Linked DNA regions of Homo sapiens. The protein of the gene in region 1 purifies or fractionates together with the protein of each later gene. This does not show direct contact. Each region holds a gene or a part of one and is shown in the gene's direction. Other genes may lie near its edges.

Region 1 (9,994 bases):
CTGGGCAGGAGGAACACCAACAGGGTCTCCATAGGCACTTGTTGCCTTCATCAGTGCTTACTTTGGCTGTGAAGGAAAGCAGGTGTGAAGTGTGGGTCCTCTGATGTGGGTGAAGGTAAAACAAAGGCCCCTTCTCCTCCTAGAAGCCCTAGTTGTCAGTAATGGATTTCTCAGCTCCCCAGGTGAGGCCCTGGGAAGGAAGAGGGGAGACGCATTTATGGAGCACCTGCTGTGTACCAGGCACAGTAATTGATGCCCTCTACGCATCAACTCACTTGATCATCACAGTGAGGTGGATTATTAGCCCATTTTACAGACGTGTAAACAGAGGCTGAGGAGCCATTCAGGGCTCACACAGGATTTCGAATCTTGACTCCTAGGCTCACTTCTTTAGTTGGGAGTGGGCTGGGCTGGGCCATGTGTGCTTTTTGTTCCCAAGGCACTCAGTCTCAGACACTCAGAGACAGACTCTCACCTCCAGTGTGTGGCCCTTGTGATAGAGGCAGGTGGTGGAGTGTGTTCTAGGGAAGGGCACTAGTGGGCAGTGGGAGGCCAGCAGGGAAGGGGGACAAAGTCCAGAAACGATACAGCACTTGAGCAGGCCTTGGGAAGATAGGTCGGGTTTTGCCCAGTGGGGCCCAGAGGAGGCATTCCAGGTGGAGGGGACAGCGTGGATAAAGGCTTGGGAGTGGGCAGGGGCAAGCAGGCAAGCCATGCTCAGAAGTGAGGAGTAGCTTCATGGGGGTGGGGAGCCCAGGTTCCCACTCCAACCAGCCTGGCATTGGGTTACTCATCGGAGCCAGTCCCAGTGTTATGTTCTGATTCTTTGCCAGAGCCTAGCTAGACCCTGCCAGGCGGGGTGGGAGAAATGAGAGCTGTGAAACCTGAGAGCCCCACATCTCCTACCCTCTGGCTCTCCAGCCAGCCATTGCCAGCCCGGGCTGAGTGGGGGTGAGCCTGAGTTACAGCACCCTCTCCCCTAAGTGACACCTAGGGTTTCTTGGGACCTCCCAGCCTGGTAGTCTAACCTTTCCTGGGCAGGGTGCACCCTCTTGGTTCCCGGTGCCGGTGATTCCCAACATTTAAGCTTCTGTCCAGAACACTCCTCTGCATTGTACGGCCATCCCCCAGACCCCTCAAACTCCAAAACAGGGGTCACAGCCTCTCCAACACCCACTGCTGCTCCTCCAGCCATTTCAACTCTCTGCTCTCCCTCAGCCCATGTTTTCAGTTAAGAACAAGGCCTGTGACTCAGCCTCTTTTGTGGGTCACCTGGAGGTCCCCTCCTCCATCACGACAGCCAGGGCCCTGGGCTAGGCCTGCTCAGTCTCCTGCAAACTGGAGGTCTGACTGCTCCCTCCTGCGCCCCTCCTGCCCATCCCCCTCCAGCCACCCGCCCTCTTAGTTCTCTCACTCTTCCTTCATCTCTTTCTTTCTCTTCCTTTTTTTTTTTTTTGAGACGGAGTCTCGCTCGCCCTGTCACCCAGGCTGGAGTGCAGTGGTGTGATCTCGGCTCACTGCAACCTCCGCATCCCAGCTCCGCCTCCCAGGTTCAAGCAATTTTCCCTGCCTCAGCCTCCCAAGTAGCTGGGATTACAGGCACCCACCACCATGCCCATCTAATTTTTGTATTTTTAGTAAAAACAGGGTTTTGCCATGTTGGCCAGGCTGGTCTCAAACTCCTGACCTCAGGTGATCCACCTGCCTTGGCCTCCCAGAGTGTTGGGATTACAGGTGTGAGCCACCGCGCCGGGCCTCCAGCCTCATTTCTTACTCCCTTTCCCTTTGCACCCAAAGTTTTAGGCACACTGAAGGGCTTCTAGCCAAGCCCTCCCTCACCTCTGGCCCTTGTTCTCCTGCTGCTCTCCCTGCTCCTTTGCTAACCTAGTCTGGCCCATCTTTCTGTCCAGGCCAGGCCTCACCTCTTTGGGACGGGCTCCCTGACTCTCTCTCCACCAATCCATTCAGCTGGGAGTACTCAGGGAGCCTGACACATATACATCCCCAGTCCCTTGTGTGGCCACAGAATGGTTTATACTGGGCACCTCACTGTTTACACTCCAGCTTCCTTCTTGTATGGCCTCTGTCCAGGCACAAAAGAGATGTTTGGAGGATGTTGTCAAATGAATGAACAAATATTTGTTAAGGCGTGGCTCCAGGAGAGCAAAGAACTCTAGACAAAGATTCTGAAGCCCTAGATTCAAGTCAGCTGGGTAGTTGATGCTGTGGGCCTTAGCAAGCCACTGTTCCCTTCTGGGCCTAAGTGTCTCCACCTCTAAAATGGGAACTACTAACCCAGCTGTGCTCATGTCACAGGGTTCTTGTGGGGATCAACTAAGATCACTGGAGACTGACCTTGAGCCGTGTGATGGTCCCCTGGGCAGTGCTGAGGCCTGAGCTGGCAGAGCTGGATGGAGAGCCATTTCCATTAGAGCTGGGAGGGCCCATGGCTCGGCTCCTGACAGCTGGCACAGGCAGACCAGGCATGTAGGAGATGGGAGGCAGGTGGGTTACCTGGAACAAGTCACCCTTGAGTTGAGCTTTGGAGAAAGGGTTTGGACAACCTGGAGAAAGAGGAGAGGGCACTCCAGTTGGGGAATAGGGTGAATATAGGCTCGGAGGCAGAACTCAAGCCTTAACTGGGAAAACGTCTGGGCTTCTACTGTAAAAGCCCAGCCTGTCCTGTTTTCTGCTGCCAATGTTCTGAGAGCCCATCACTCCTGGGTTAGGCCCCCTCTCTCCTTCCCTCCCTTCCACTCCTCATGACCCAGACCTGACCTTTGCCGGAAGACCTGTCCCTGTGTCCCTGTGTACTGTCAGGAACCAAGCAGTGATGGGGCACTTGCTCTCCAAAAGTGTAAGAAAGGGTTCCTTCAGACATAGGGCTGTAGCTCCCAGGGCAGCTGAGGGTGTAGTGGTGGGCAGGGTGTTTGGTGACTCCAGAGAAGGGAAAGACAGCAGAGCTACCGACTCTGGGGAGATGCCTTTGGGACCTGGGTGGTGGATGGAGCTGTTGTACTCTTTCCTATCAGCTGGGGCCTATAGACTTCCTGTACCTTATCTCATTTGCTCTTCACACTGTCCCCTTCAGAGAGGCCTATTTCCACTTTACAGATGCAGAAACTGAGGCTCAGAAAGGAGAATGACTTGCCTAAGGGTCTGAAGCTAGACTAGAATTTGACCCTGACTACCAAACCTTTTCCCCTGCCACACTTCTAGGCCACCCTGAGCCCTGAGAAGCTTTTAAGAACACCTGCCATATTCACTACCTGTGCACTGCCTCCTTGGGGTGAGTCCCAGGGAAACAAGTGAACAGAAGAAAAAGTGAAACATCAGTTGATGAGCAGGTTCATGGCAGTTTTGTCAGTGATGTTAAAACCAAGAAATAGGTGTTACTAAATGTTCAGAAAGAGAAGAAAGATTAAGACTAGGCAGGGACTCTGCAGCCACTGAAATAACGTAACTGCTGTGGAAGGCATAGATGGAAAAGTCTGGTCACTCATCCCACAAGCCTGTATTAAGCACCTGCTGTGTATAAGTATAGGAATACACAGCAGACGCAGGACATGGAGTGGCTGGTGTACAGTGGTCATGGCTCTGTTTGTAGTCATAGGCAGTGGCCAAGAAGCACAGAGGATCTTTTCTTGCCTCTGCTTCCTTGCCAGTGAGGGCCCCAAGGTCTACTCCCATTAAAAAGAAAAAAAGAAGGCTATGCGTGGTAGCTCATGCCTATAATCCCGGCACTTTGGGAAGCCTAGTTGGGTGAACACCTGAGGTCAGGAGTTCGAGACCAGCCTGACCAATATGGTGAAACCCCATCTCTATACTAAGAATACAAAAATTAGCCAGGCATGGTGGCGCATGCCTGTAATCCCAGCTACTTGGAAGGCTGAGACAGGAGAATCACTTGAACCCAGGAGGCGGAGGTTGCAGTGAGCTGAGATCATGCCACTGTACTCCAGCCTGGGTGACAGAGCAAGACTCCGTCTCAAAAAAAAAAGGGGGGGGGGCAGGGGAAAGGGAAGCACAGAGGCCTAAGTTCCATTCCCAGCCCTCCTGGGCTGTGTGTGCAACTTAAGGCAAGCTACTCAACTTTGCTGAGTCTCAAGTTGCCCATCTTTAAGATAGAGAGATAATGCCCACCCCCATTGGCTAATGATAAGGATTAAGAAAAATTGGATATTTAGAGCCCCAGGTGCCAGGTGCATGGTACATCATGTACTGGTTGTGATGTGGTTTTCAGCCTGGGTTGCACGTTGGGACCACCTGAGTGGCTTTGAAAACAGCCAATGCCTGGATCCATCCTTGGGGATTTCTCTACAATTTGTCTGGGGTCTGCTGAGGGATGGGGGACACAGGTATCCTAAACAGTCCCCCAAGTGATTCTGCTCTAGAGCAGACTTCCTCACACTTCAACATGCATCAGCATCATTGGGAGGGTTTTTTAAAGTGCAGATCCCTGGACCCCACCCACAGAGTTTCTGATTCAAGAGATCTGGAGTGGAGCCTAAGAATCTACATTTTCACCAAGTTCCCAGTGAGGCTGATGCTGCTGGTCCAGGAGCCACAGCGTGAGGACCATTGATGTAGGGAGGTGTAAGTAATTGTGACAGGGAGCAGGGTTATAGGGGAAGTGTTTGCATCTTTTGTCAGGAGAACCCTTGAATCAGGACCTGGATAGTTCCTTTCCAACACATGGGATAGGAGAGAGAAGAGGGGAGGGGAAGGAGGACAGATCGGGGGGAAGAGAGCAGGAGTTGGGACCTCTCCCCATTTCCAGTTCTGCTGACTGCCTCCTCCAGGCTAGGTGGGAGAGCCCTGGCCCTTCTCACTGGGCACCTTAGACCATGGAAACGGCCCTGGGGTGGAGGGAAGTCCACATTCTGCACCATGTTTCTGGAGTTTGCTGATAAATCAGCCCACTGTGTCTCCAGCCTGTCTGTGCCTGAGGCCTGCTAAGTAGGGAGTTTTCTGTCTGTGTTGGGTGAGGAGCAGGGGGCACTGCTTCCCCAGCCTGAGCCTTTCTGGGCTCCTACAGAGGAACCACTGTCAAAAGCAAAGCTGAGACCCCCAGGAGAACCCCTCGTGTTTCCAAGAAGCCAGCATGGATCCTTAGTCTAACTCCCAGGGAGCAGCAGCTTAGAAGGACAGACTTGTTGGGCCAAATGGGGCCTGGAAATTCCCACCAGCTCTCCCCTTTTCAGCTCTCCCGAAGGCACCCAGTGGAAACCCCAGATGTTGTGTGCATCCTGCAGGCGTCCTCTCTTTGGGCCTCTTAACACGCAATCCAATTGCCCTGATGTCCAGCGGCTTCAGGTCTCATTCAGGGCAAGCCTGGCTGTTTGCAGGCCTGAGTTTCAGCCATTCACTCCTCATCAGAGCTGGCTCTGGTCAGCTTATGGCCCCAGGAGGCCCTATGGGCTCTGGGCTCTGCAGACCTAGGAGGCCTTCTTGCTTCATGCTGTAACAGTGGACAAAGGCGGAGGAGCTAAACAGCAGGGGAGGTGCACAAAAGCCCTTTACGGTTGGGCATTTTACAAAGTGCTGGGTCCTCTTCACCTCTATACTTTTCACCAAGGGCTGGCATAGTGGCCATTGTCACTGACTCCCAGTGGTTGATACTCACCTTGGGCAGGCCAAGCTGTGGATAGAGGCAGTTCATCTAAACAAAGACAGGACCCCTCCGAGATGAGTTTGTCATCTGGATGGCCCTAGGAGCCAAGTGCTGCCCCCCACCTGGAGTAATGCTTACCTGGGGATCCCCAGCAGCCCCTACCCTCACCTCTACCCCAGATGCTACCTGGTTCCCCCTGCCCACGTTTCTCCCTCCCATATCTCCCTGGCCTCTTCACTCCCTTCTCTGGGTGACCTCATCCCTTTCTGGCTTCAGACACCAAGTATATACTGATGCTTCCCCAGTCTATGTGCCTGGAACTCTCAGTCTCTGAGCCTGGGACTGCACAACCCCCCTAGCACCATGCTCAGGGCTACAGTGAGGATGGCACCCCATGCAGCTACACGAGGTGGCCCTGTGGGTCCTCATTCGGAGTTGTCTCCCAGCCACCTCCCTGTCATCCCCCAGTGTATCCCACTGGCACTCAAATCAGCCACGCATACCTGTGAGCATTCATCTTCCTCCTACATGTGTACCCTAAAGCATGCTACAGCCCCCCACCATGCACTAAGCTCCTTAGGCCTAGCCCAGGATGGATAAAGGTTTTGGGAGGCATTTTCTATACCTACTAGAGCCAGCTGTCCCCAGTGGGTGAGGGCAAGGTGGAAAGGGATAGTAGTGACTCTTCTGTCCCCAGTCCGGAGCTATCCCCTGTGAGCCCTGTGGCATCGAGGCCTCTGAGGAAGAAAGTCTGGGAGCCGCACACTGACTGTGTGTTGTGTGTTTTCCCTCAACAGGACTGCACCTTCTTCAATAAGAAGGACATCCTCAAGTAAGTGTGGCTTCTCGTTCACCCTGTTGGGACTGGGACTGGGGCCGGGGTGAGGCTGGGGCACCCCACATGGGCTGGCTGTGCTCCTGGGGCTGAGGCAGAGCATCAGCATGTATCAGGAGCCACATTCAGGTCCCCACTCGGCCACTGGGCTAGGATGGAGTTAGAGCTTCCCACTCCTCCCAGGGCCCAGATCCTCCTGCTGGGGAATGAACATCTACTTACTATGAGCTTTCAGGTGGGTAGTTTCCGGCACATTCTTATTTAATCCTCATTGTGACCTTGTAACAAGAGAATCCATTTATCCCCATTTGACAGATGGAGCTTAGCAACTTGGCTAAAGTCACAGAGCCAGGGACTCAAGACCCAGCCTCTGACTCCAGGTCCCTTGCTATTTCACTGCATCCTGGGTCCTGGTATAGCAGGGAGTCCCTGTCTGTTAGACCAGGGGTCCCTAAGGGCCCTTTGGCTCTAGCTTTGATGTTCTTCCACTCCTAGGACGTCTAAAAGTTGAGGGCATGGCCACCACCCCTGAGCTATTCATCAGGGCTCTGCTTCTTCCCAGGACAGCCCTTCTCCTTGGTGTTGATGGGGGTGGGGGTGGACCTGGATGGGAAAGATAAAGGGGATCGGCAGCCTCAGAACCCCAGGACCAGTGGGTGAGCAGGAATCACTGAATACCAAGAAAACTGCCCCACGGGCCTCACTAGGCCCCTCTGCCTGGGTGGCACTAAAAGCCAGCAAAGTCCCAGGATCACTTGCCCTGGAGATCGATGGTCAGGCTGGGACCAGAGCCCATTGCAGCTTCCCAAGAGAGCTGTGCTGCAGCTTGTCACTGCCCTAACCATTCTGCTCATTCAGGCAGTGCCTCTCGGCTTTCCTCTCTACCCAGGCTGCTATTCCAACCTGTCACCTGCATGGGCAGGGGATACCCCACTTCCACCACCTTAGAGAGTCTGAGCAAGGGGCAAAGCCTCCAGGCCTGGCATCAGTAGACCTGGCATCTGTGGCCTTGGGCAACCATTTGACCTTCCCTGAGCCTCAGTTTTCTTCTGTATAATAGGGATAGTGAAACCTACCCTCATAGCATTGCCGAGAGGCAGCAACACTGGGGTATAGTGTTTGATAAGTGGGATTTGCCCTGTAGCTTGAGAGATGTCAGGGGTGAGGTCCCCATTTCGACAGGATGGCTCTCGGTATTGGAATAACAAAGCTGTCACCCCTGGCATTCTTGTGGCACCTTTTACCTTTCAGAGTTCTTGGCATGGAGCCTCATTTGAGCCTCACAGGGAGCTTCGGGTTCCCTACCTTTGTAGATGCCAAGCCCAAGCTGCCTGTCTTCTGAGGCCCACGGCCATTTTCATTCTGGCAACAAAAGCCCCTTGCCTCGGCCTTTGCACTGGCTATCTCCACTCCCTGGAGTGTCCTTCGCCTCTCCTCTGCCCACAGCATTGCTATGCATCCTTCCAGACCCAACTCCAGAATCATCTCCTTTATAAGCACCCCCAACACCCTGCCACCCTAGTGCTATCCCAGCTGCTCTAACAGCCTGTTAGGGGCTCCTTGGGTTCCTGGACCCAGGGGCCCAGCTCCCCACCAGACTTGTGATCAGGCAGGACTAACAGGGAGCATGGCACCTGTTAGCCACCAGTGACCATATGAAGAGTGTGTGGGTGAAAGACAGGTAGGATTGGCTGAGGGAGAACATTCCAGGCTGGGGAGCAGCAGAGGTGAGACACAGGCCAGCTTCTCCTGCTCCCACTCCCACCCCCATCCTCCCGTGGTCTCATTGACAGCAGCAAGATTGCCTGTGTGGGGAAGAGGAGAGAGGAGCTTGAAGGCCAGTCCGGGAATCCGATCCAATATGATGGGCCTTTGGTGGTTGTTTTAGTCCATTCTCATGCTGCTATAAAGAACTGCCTGAGACTGGGTAATTTATAAAGGAAAGAGGTTTAATTGATTCATGGCTCCACATGGCTGGGGAGGCCTCAGGAAACTTACAATCATGGCAGAAGGGGAGGCAAACACATCCTTCCTCACATGGCGGCAGGAAAGAGAAGTGCTGGGCAAAGGGGGAGAAGCCCCTTATAAAACCATCAGATCTCGTGAGAACTCACTATCATGAGAACAGCCTCGGGGTAACTGCCCCCATGATTCAATTACCTCCCACCAGGTCCCTCCCATGACACGTAGGGATTATGGGAACTACAATTCAAGATGAGATTTGGGTAGGGACACAGCCAAACCATATCAGGGGTATCCCTGGCCCCTTGGAAAATGAGGGGCTCCAGGCAGGTGAGAGGGCTTGAGGAGAGGCGTCCTGGCTCCCCACAGCCCTGGCCTGCACCCCTCTGCACGCATCAGGACCCTAGGCTCTGTAATTCAACACCAGAGCAAAACCCAAGCCTGAGGCCCCGTCTGCAGCATGGGGATGACATTGCTTGCAGGAGCTGTTTTCTCACAGGCCCCTGTGTCTGGGAGGGCTGGGTGATGGTGTTATTAAACATGAAAAGAGCTACCTGGAGTTTGCTGCCCACCTGTCCACCCTCAGGGAAGGGTAGTTAAGACAAGACAGATTCGGGATTGCCTGTCCCTAGAGGGAACAGGCATGGCCATGATGGCTCAATTCCAGTTTCACCCCCCTTCGCTTTTCTCCAGCCTTCTCTGTGGAGAGGCCAGCATGACTGACTGCCCCTCCAGGAGAGCCCTCTCCACTGTTCACATCTCAGGTCCGGGTGACAAAACTGAGGCCTGGAGCCCAGAGAGGGCAAAGTCAGCTGCAGAGCCAGGCTATCCAGCCCCAGGCCATGCTCATCTTCCCTGCTCCCAAGGGCCTTTCAGGGATGCTACTCCCCACCCCCACCAGGATGGTTTTCTTGGTAAGCTGCTCCCTGCGTACTGACCAGATGGCTAGGAGGAAACTTGAGCAGGAGGTTTTTCTTTGCAGGTTGGGGCCCAGCTCTGTGGCAACTTTGGGGCAGTGATACCGAGTCACAGATAGCCCGCCTCCAATTCTCCTTCCCTCTGCCCTGCCCCCACCCAGGTAGATCCGATTGCTCCCCAGGACACAGCTCCTGCATTCCCACATTGAGGCCGAGTGGGCAGCCCACCCTATTCAGTCACCTTGCTTTTTATAGGTAAGAGCTTAGCACTTCAACTTCCCTTGTGCCCTAATTAGGCTGTGCTCTTTAATCAGCGGGACAGTAGTCCTTGTCCCCTTGGTACACAGAGAGGCCCACCCAGCCAGCACTCCAAGGTATTTGCCTACTTGTTATTTTATTGTTTATTTTCTCAACCTTTTAAAAACTTTGTGTAACCTATTTTAATTACTTACTACACATATACATAATGATTGTAGAAAAATTAGAAAATGAAGCCAGTCAAGAGAAGACAAAAAAAATTACCTGTAAGCCTATGACCCAGAAATAAGGCTGTTAATCTTTTGGTATATATTATGCCAGTGTTTTTCTTTTGTATGTGTTTATCAAAAAGTCAGATTGTGGTCGGGTACGTTGGCTCACACCTGTAATCCTAGCACTTTGAGAGGC
Region 2 (8,206 bases), on another chromosome or scaffold:
CTTCATCCTAAAATTTCCAGTTTTCTGGAGAGAATATTCTTCAGTGCTGGAGAGTGAATCTGACTCAAAGATATGTTTGCTGCTTTTCCCCCAAATACTTTATTAAAGGAAATATGGAGTTAGAATTTTTCATCAGTTTCTGACAGTATCATTTCCTTTTTTGTTGTATATCACTGTATGACATCAGTGTTTGAGCTAGGCAGGATTTGGACACTCGAGGGAAAGCTGGGACTTCCGTTTGGGTAGTTGATAGTGAAGGGACATGGTGAAAAATGGATTTGTAACTAGAAGGCCTTGGTTCAAACATGACTTTGTGGTGTTGGGAAAGTCTTTGTATTCAGTTTTCTCTTTTCCGAAATGAAGATATCATCTCTGTGCCACAGTTACCTTTCAGAGTTGTCATAACCACCAGAATGAGGTGATGTCTTTTGAAGAGTTTTTCTCCTAAAGTTCTGTGATTTTAGGCTTGTCCTGTGATCAGCTGCTCTCTTAGGTATGTCAGTTTTCATACCATAGGGAGTCGTGATACTCTTGATGTAGGTTGGTTAGTCTTAGGGTCCTTCTCCCAGCTCTAGAGCCTTTTGACTCTTTTAACAACCAGAGGGAGGTAGAGCAGGCTGGGGGTGGGTGTTCAGGGAGGCCTAATGGGGAGTTTAGAGCTTGGCTTTATGCTTATTTTGTCCCCACAGGACCCTGTGGTTTTGGCATTTGACATTGAGACGACCAAACTGCCCCTCAAGTTTCCTGATGCTGAGACAGACCAGATTATGATGATTTCCTACATGATCGATGGCCAGGTGAGCAGGTGGCTTCTGGGAAGTAAGCTCCTGGGATGGGGACCTTGTCTGGTCCCCATACTACAGCAGCATCTGCCCCACTGTTAGTATTTGTTGAGTGAATAATGAGTTAGTCCAGGAATGGGAGCAACCAAGCCGTTCCGACCTCCAGCTGTACCCTCCCCTTTCGAGTGGGAATCCACACACAGAGCGTCTCTTCTCAGGAAGCTTAAAGCACTTTCACATTGCTGTGGACTTCTTTGTAGTGAGAATCTCTAGGCAGAGTGTGTGGGCAGGGTGGGAACGCCATTTCTTGGCTTTGCAGCCTCTGACTTGTGCTGATTGCTAATGAACTTGGCTAGGGCTACCTCATCACCAACAGGGAGATTGTTTCAGAAGATATTGAAGATTTTGAGTTCACCCCCAAGCCAGAATATGAAGGCCCCTTTTGTGTCTTCAATGAACCCGATGAGGTAAGGAGGTATCACTTGGGAAACTACCCGGTATTGTGGGAAGAACGGACATGTGGATCTTTCCAAGGCCTCAGGCATTCCGTCAGATCAGAATTGCAGCTCCATGAGCTTTGTTCTCAGGGTATGACCGTCTTTTCTGCCAGAGACGGGCGGAGGGGCGGGGCAGGAATAAGGGCCAACATGAGGCTGCTGCTTCTGAACTTTGGGAGAGGAATTTGGAATAGCTTGAAGAAGAGAAAGAGCAGACCTCTGACTGCTGTGACTTGGGTTCAGGCTCATCTGATCCAAAGGTGGTTTGAACACGTCCAGGAGACCAAACCCACCATCATGGTCACCTACAACGGGGACTTTTTTGACTGGTGAGTCTGTGTCTTCTCTATGAGTAACTGGGCAGCATTTGAGAGGGAGGGCGTTGCGTGGTGCAGGGGCGCTTCCCATGTCGACTTAGGAGGTGGCTCCTGGGTTCACTCTGCACCTCCCGTGTCTGGGTTCCTCCCTGGGTCTGAGGGAGGAATGGAGAAAGGGGCATTAGAGCCTGACCTGCCCACTTGCTTGTCTGTCCTCTTTCCAACCCAGGCCATTTGTGGAGGCCCGGGCAGCAGTCCACGGTCTGAGCATGCAGCAGGAGATAGGCTTCCAGAAGGACAGCCAGGGGGAGTACAAGGCGCCCCAGTGCATCCACATGGACTGCCTCAGGTAGGGGCCACAGAGCAGCATGGCTCCTCACTGCTGTCCGTGAGCGAGATCTGAAGGCCTCTTGCAGACTGTGCTGTCACCACATCTCATGGGAGGAGGGTGGCCTCCGAGAGGCCGTTTCAGGTCACCCAAGAGTATGGCAGCTGCAACCCTGCCAGGGCCCGGGATGTGCTGTCTTTGACTGTTGACTGACAATTCATCAGTGACCAGGCACATTGAGCATCAGCCTCTGGGGTGGGGAAGCCGCTGGAAAGACGCACTCAGCTGACAGGTCCCAGACCTAGGACCTCATGGAGCTGCTCTGCCCAGGCAAGGTTGGGATGTGGCAGCCCGGCTGCCTCACAGGACAAGCCTCACGGGACAACCACAGATTCCATATGAGCTAGGGTGGGAGGCAGCTCAGAGCTTCGGAGAGTCACGGCGTTCGGGGGCTCTGACATGACTGGTTGGGAAGACAGGTGGATGTGGAAATGCCAACAGAAGGAGGCTGGAAGGGAAGGAAGGGAAGGGAGGGAGGAAAGGAGGGAAGGGAAGGAAGGGAAGGGAGGGAGGGAAGGAAGGGAAGGGAGGGAGGGAAGGAAGGGAATGGAGGGGCCTCCACGGCCTCTGTATTCTGCACAGTGCCACTGGGGTGCTTGCAGCCTGAATGCGTTTCTGTTTAGCTCTGATGCTCAGCACTTGGCTTGGAGAGGGAGGCCAGGAGGCTGGGGCCGGTTTAGCGTGTGACGGTGTGACAGTCCTGATCCAAGGCAGGGAGTGAGGGTTGTGAGGATTCAGGATCTGTCATGTGGGGCAGGGGGAGGCCCAGGGATGCTGGTTCTTAGGGAGGGGTTGGCACCTGGGGTTTTTGTGCCATCCGTGGAGACAGGGAATGGGTAGAGAAGGGGCTTGAGGCAGGAGGTGACCCTGCTACCGATATGCTAGCCTGGAAGCCCCACCCATATGGGGGCCCTGAAGACCACCATGAGGCTTGGTTTGGGCTCGCACTGTAGATTGGGACTCACTGGGTTGCGGGTGGGTCTTGGTGAAAGCTGGGGTAGTGGATGAACTGAAGGCAAGAGGTAAAGTGAGAGAAGAAGGCCACAGGGTGGAGGCTGCGGGGGGTGGAGACCGGACATGACCCCTGGACAGCTGCTCCAGGGAATGCGTCTGTAGGGAGGAGGTAGAGACAGGTTCCGGGTAGAGTGTGGGGGGCCTTCTTTTCTTAATTTTTATTTTTTATTTATTTTTTAAATTTTTATTCTTCTTGGCATCTGATCACATCTTGCCTTCTATTAAAGGAGGGTGGGCTTGAGTGTTTCCGTGCTGAAGGGACAGTGTGAGGAGAGAAGATCAGTGTGGTTGATAGAACTAGGCCCCAGGGGTGCAGACCTGAGGTCTGGGGAGAGGCCCAAGGAGGTGGGGCGCCCGTCGGAGAGGCCACAAACTCTGCTGAGGATGGGAGGAAGGCGAGGGCCGGAAGGACCAGTCCTGGTGCTTCCTTGTGTTGTGGATAGGTCTGTGAGATTAACTAGATCCTGATGAAGGGTTTTCACAAGGTGTCTACACCATGTGGGGCCTTGGTGTGAGGCTCCTGGGTGCCTGTTAGGAACTTGCATCTGTCTGTGTGGTGCCCAGTTTTGCCAGTTCTCAGGGGTTCCCGGGCTGCATGTTAGAATCATCCTGGCTTCTGTTCTCATTCTCCTTCCAGGTGGGTGAAGAGGGACAGTTACCTTCCTGTGGGCAGTCATAATCTCAAGGCGGCCGCCAAGGCCAAGCTAGGCTATGATCCCGTGGAGCTAGACCCGGAGGACATGTGCCGGATGGCCACGGAGCAGCCCCAGGCACGTAAGCCACATCCCGGCTGCCCCTGCTGCCGTGTGCACGCATCCAGATGGCCACGGAGCAGCCCCAGGCATGTGAGCCACATCCCGGCTCCCCCTGCTGCCGTGTGCACGCATGTATGCCAGCCCGCTCCACCCAGCAGGCTGTGTCTCCGGGACACACGTGTTTTGTCCTGTGCCGGTCTCCTTACTGTGTGTGCGGCAGGCTGGTCAGGCCAGGCTTTGCTTTCTGTGCTTCACACTTGACCCTGGGCTCTTGATTTTTGATGGCCCTGCTCTCTGGCGTTCTCTCCTCAGACTCTGGCCACGTATTCTGTGTCAGATGCTGTCGCCACTTACTACCTGTACATGAAGTACGTCCACCCATTCATCTTTGCTCTGTGCACCATTATTCCCATGGAGCCCGACGAGGTGAGCATTATCTGTCCTGTCGGCACCCTGGCCTCCTCAGCCCTTGCCCCATTCCAAATGCACTGGAGCTGAATGGAGGTGGATGTCCCAGGAGTGCTGGCACCAGAGGCGGCAGTAGAATTCTGGTGTGTGACGTCAGGGATGTCCTTTGGGAATTCTCTGGCCCTGGTGTGAGGAAGAAACCACAGGAGGCAGAATTTGCAGCCATTTACCACGAGGTTTTCTCTCCTTTCACACTGAAGTTCAGCTTAGGTTCCTGGACTTTGCCTGCAAGTCAGGGCCTTTGGTGTTGCTTTTGGCTGGAAGCCTTGGTTTCTCTTGCAGGTGCTGCGGAAGGGCTCTGGCACTCTGTGTGAGGCCTTGCTGATGGTGCAGGCCTTCCACGCCAACATCATCTTCCCCAACAAGCAAGAGCAGGAGTTCAATAAGCTGACGGACGACGGACACGTGCTGGACTCTGAGACCTACGTCGGGGGCCACGTGGAGGCCCTCGAGTCTGGGGTTTTCCGCAGCGATATCCCTTGCCGGTTTAGGATGGTGTGCTTCTTCCCTGGGATTCAGATTCTTCCCACTCTTGTGCTGTGGTAGGACCCAGAAGCTGCAGGGGCTGAAATAAAGCCCCTTCTCCCCATCCTGTCCCACGGCCCCTCACCGGGTGTGGCTTCTCTGGCCCAGCACCCCCCGGGGGCTTCTTTAGGGCAGTGCACTGCAGATTGTGCACATGAGTCCTTCCGGAGCTTTCTCGGGCACAACCTGCCACGTGCAGCCACAGCGTCAAACCTGAGGCAGGCTAGTGTGGGTGTGTTTCCCCTCTGACCCCGTCGTCTCACTGTTGTGCTAGAATCCTGCCGCCTTTGACTTCCTGCTGCAGCGGGTTGAGAAGACCTTGCGCCACGCCCTTGAGGAAGAGGAGAAAGTGCCTGTGGAGCAAGTCACCAACTTTGAAGAGGTAACCATCAGGGAGGCAGGAAGAGCCAGTCTGTGTTTGGCGCCTTCTTCACAGACCACGTCTTTCAGCAGCACGTTTATTGTGCACCTGCTGCGTGTGGTGCTGTGGACGGATGACACAGGGTCTCTGGTGGGACAGGGCAGTCATGGTTGTGACGTGTGATGCTGTCACAAGGTCGGAGGGCTTCATGAGAGGTGGGGTGTGAGCTGCTCCTGAAATGCAGTAACATGGAAGGTGGGTCCTGGTGGGATGTATCCCGTGTCCTGTTTTAAAGCATTAGGACTTTATTTTATAGGCACTGGGGAGCCATTGGAGGTTTTAAATTTTATTTACTTTTTGTTGTTGAGACTTAAAAATGACAGTAAATTCCTACAAATGACAGGATTAGTGACTGTAAAATCTGTTTACATAATGGTTAGAAAGCACACTTACAAAGTGTGTTATGTGACTGGAGAGGGAGACACCAGTTCTTCTCTGATCCCTGTTCCTCAGGACATGGCACATCTCAGGTCTTTTTTTTTTTTTTTTTTTTTTTTCCCTTTTTGAGATGGAGTCTCGCTGTTGTTGGCCTGGGCTGGAGTGCAATGGCATGAGTTTGGCTCACTGCAACCTCTGCCTCCCGGGTTCAAGCAATTCTCCTGCCTCAGGCTCCCCAGTAGCTGGGATTACAGGCATCCGCCACCACACCTGGCTAGTTTTTGTATTTTTAGTAGAGACAGGGTTTCACCATGTTGTCCAGTCTGATCTTGAACTCCTGACCTTGTGATCCGCCTGCCTTGGCCTCCCAAAGTGCTGGGATTACAGGTGTGAGGCACCGCGCCTGGCCTATCTCAGGTCTTTATGTCAGGCACTGTGCAGCACTACATCATGTTCAGTGAGGTTGCTGGTTTAGAGTTTTTAACAGTTTTCACATTGATGCCAAGAAACTTTTTTTTTTTTTTTTTTTTTTTTTGAGACGGAGTCTTGCTCTGTCACCCACACTGGAGTGCAATGGCATGATCTCGGCTTACTGCAACCTTTGCCTCCTGGGTTCAAGCGATTCTCCTGTCTCAGCCTCCTGAGTAGCTGGGATTACAGGTGCCCACCACCATGCCTGGCCAATTTTTGTATTTTTAGTAGAGATGAGGTTTCACCACGTTGGCCAGGCTGCTTTCGAACTCCTGACTGTAAGTGATCTGCCCACCTCAGCCTCCCAAAGTGCTGGGATTACAGGTGTGAGCCACTGTGCCTGCCCTCAAGAAACATCTTGTAATAGATTCACTAGTCAAAATTTAAACAAGAATATGTGTACACTCTTGGCAAGCTGTGAAGCACTGTTTGGCTATTGTCAGCCACATCCATTATTATACTTCAGGGAACTCTTATGAACCGATCAGGAAGAGAGCCTTGTCTGAATAACAAATAGGAGTTAAAGAATGTCGGCCATGGCCGGGCACGGTGGCTCACGCCTGTAATTCCAGCACTTTGGGAGGCCGAGGTGGATCACGAGGTCAGGAGATTGAGACCATCCTGGCTAACACGGTGAAACCCCGTCTCTACTAAAAAAATATAAAAAAATTAGCCGGGCGTGGTGGCGGGCACCTGTAGTCCCAGCTACTCGGGAGGCTGAGGCAGGAGAATAGCAAGAACCCGGGAGGCGGAGCTTGCAGTGAGCCGAGATCGCTCCACTACACTCCAGCCTGGGCAGCCTGGAATCCCAGCATTTTGGGAGGCTGAGGCGGGTGGATCACCTGAGGTCAGGAGTTTGAGACCAGCCTGGCCAACATGGAGAAACCCCGTCTCTACTAAAAATACAAAAAAAAATTACCCAGGCGTGGTGGCGAGACGTCTCAGAATCTGAGACAGAGTTTCACTCTTGTTGCCCAGGCTGGAGTGCAATGGCATGATCTCGGCTCACCACAACCTCTGCCTCCTGGGTTCAAGAGATTCTCCTGCCTCAGCCTCCTGAGTAGCTGGGATAACAGGCGCTTGCCACCACGCCTGGGTAATTTTTTTTTTGTATTTTTAGTAGAGACAGGGTTTCTCCATGTTGGCCAGGCTGGTCTCGAACTCCCGACCTCAGCTGATCTGCCCGCTTGGCCTCCCAAAGTGCTGGGATTACAGGCGTGAGCCACCGCGCCCGACCTAGAAGCAGATATTTAAAGTCTTTAAGAAACAGTGAGATGGGCAGGTAGAGTGAGGCTGGAGGTGTGGTAGATGTGAGGATGCCAGGCTCCCTGGTGAGTGAGGAAGAGAGCTCTGTAGATGTGAGGACGCCAGGCTCCCTGGTGAGTGAGGAAGGGAGCTCTGTAGATGACATTGTCCTGTTAGCGATTCCTAAGTCCTCGCAAGTGCCCTTGAAAGGGAAGCCCAGGATCGCCTTTGTGTCCCTGAAGGGTCACCTGTTGGGCGGAGGGTGGCTGGGGGGATGTCAGCAGGGGCTCACAGCCACGTGGGGCATGTCCAGGTGGTGTCCCCACCATGGAAACTTGGCCATTCACTTGTCCCAGCCCATCCTCCCCTTCTTGACTGGACAGCCTTTCAGAACACGCCGTTACTGGGCAGAGAAGGGTGCAGTGGAGGCTCTTCCCCGGCTGATTCGTTTATCTGTAATTCAAGTAGAAACAATAGGTGTTACTGTTGTGGTATTTCCTGTTCTATGGAATAGATGTTATTCCTTGTAATCACTTTTTTCTTAAAATTTTAGGTGTGTTTTCTATTTTTACTACTTTGGAGGGTTTTAAGGATTTTTCTTTTTCTTTTTTTTTTTCTGAAACAGGATCTGGCTCTGTTGCCCAGGCTGGAGTGCAGTGGTGCAATCTGGGCTCACTACAGCCTTGACCTCACGGGCTCAAGCGATTCTTCCACCCCAGCGTTCCGAGTAGCTGGGACTACAGGTGCCACCGCCACACACGGCTAATTTTTTATTTTTTATAGAGACGGGGGTCCCACTGTGTTGCTCAGGCTGGTCTCGAACTCCTGGGCTCAAGTGATCCTCTGGCCTCGGTCTCCGAAAGTGCTAGGATTACAAGCATGAACCACTGCACCTGGCCTAAGGATTTTTTTTAATACTAAGGAGAGTTTAGTGTTCAAGTAATT

The links.
Region 2: the proteins of CIB2 (region 1) and POLE purify together in Homo sapiens (co-immunoprecipitation; 2 studies listed by BioGRID and IntAct, with this or other methods). This does not show direct contact.

What each region holds. Positions count from the first base shown.
Region 1 is NC_000015.10:78,120,157-78,130,150, reverse strand, and holds part of CIB2 (calcium and integrin-binding family member 2), read left to right. Parts: intron 1-6,411; coding exon 6,412-6,446; intron 6,447-9,489; exon of another isoform or gene 9,490-9,583; intron 9,584-9,994. UniProt on the Homo sapiens protein: Calcium- and integrin-binding protein that plays a role in intracellular calcium homeostasis. Acts as an auxiliary subunit of the sensory mechanoelectrical transduction (MET) channel in hair cells.
Region 2 is NC_000012.12:132,669,137-132,677,342, reverse strand, and holds part of POLE (DNA polymerase epsilon catalytic subunit A), read left to right. Parts: intron 1-689; coding exon 690-797; intron 798-1,138; coding exon 1,139-1,249; intron 1,250-1,522; coding exon 1,523-1,608; intron 1,609-1,825; coding exon 1,826-1,945; intron 1,946-3,635; coding exon 3,636-3,768; intron 3,769-4,065; coding exon 4,066-4,179; intron 4,180-4,503; coding exon 4,504-4,716; intron 4,717-5,020; coding exon 5,021-5,128; intron 5,129-8,206. UniProt on the Homo sapiens protein: Catalytic component of the DNA polymerase epsilon complex. Participates in chromosomal DNA replication.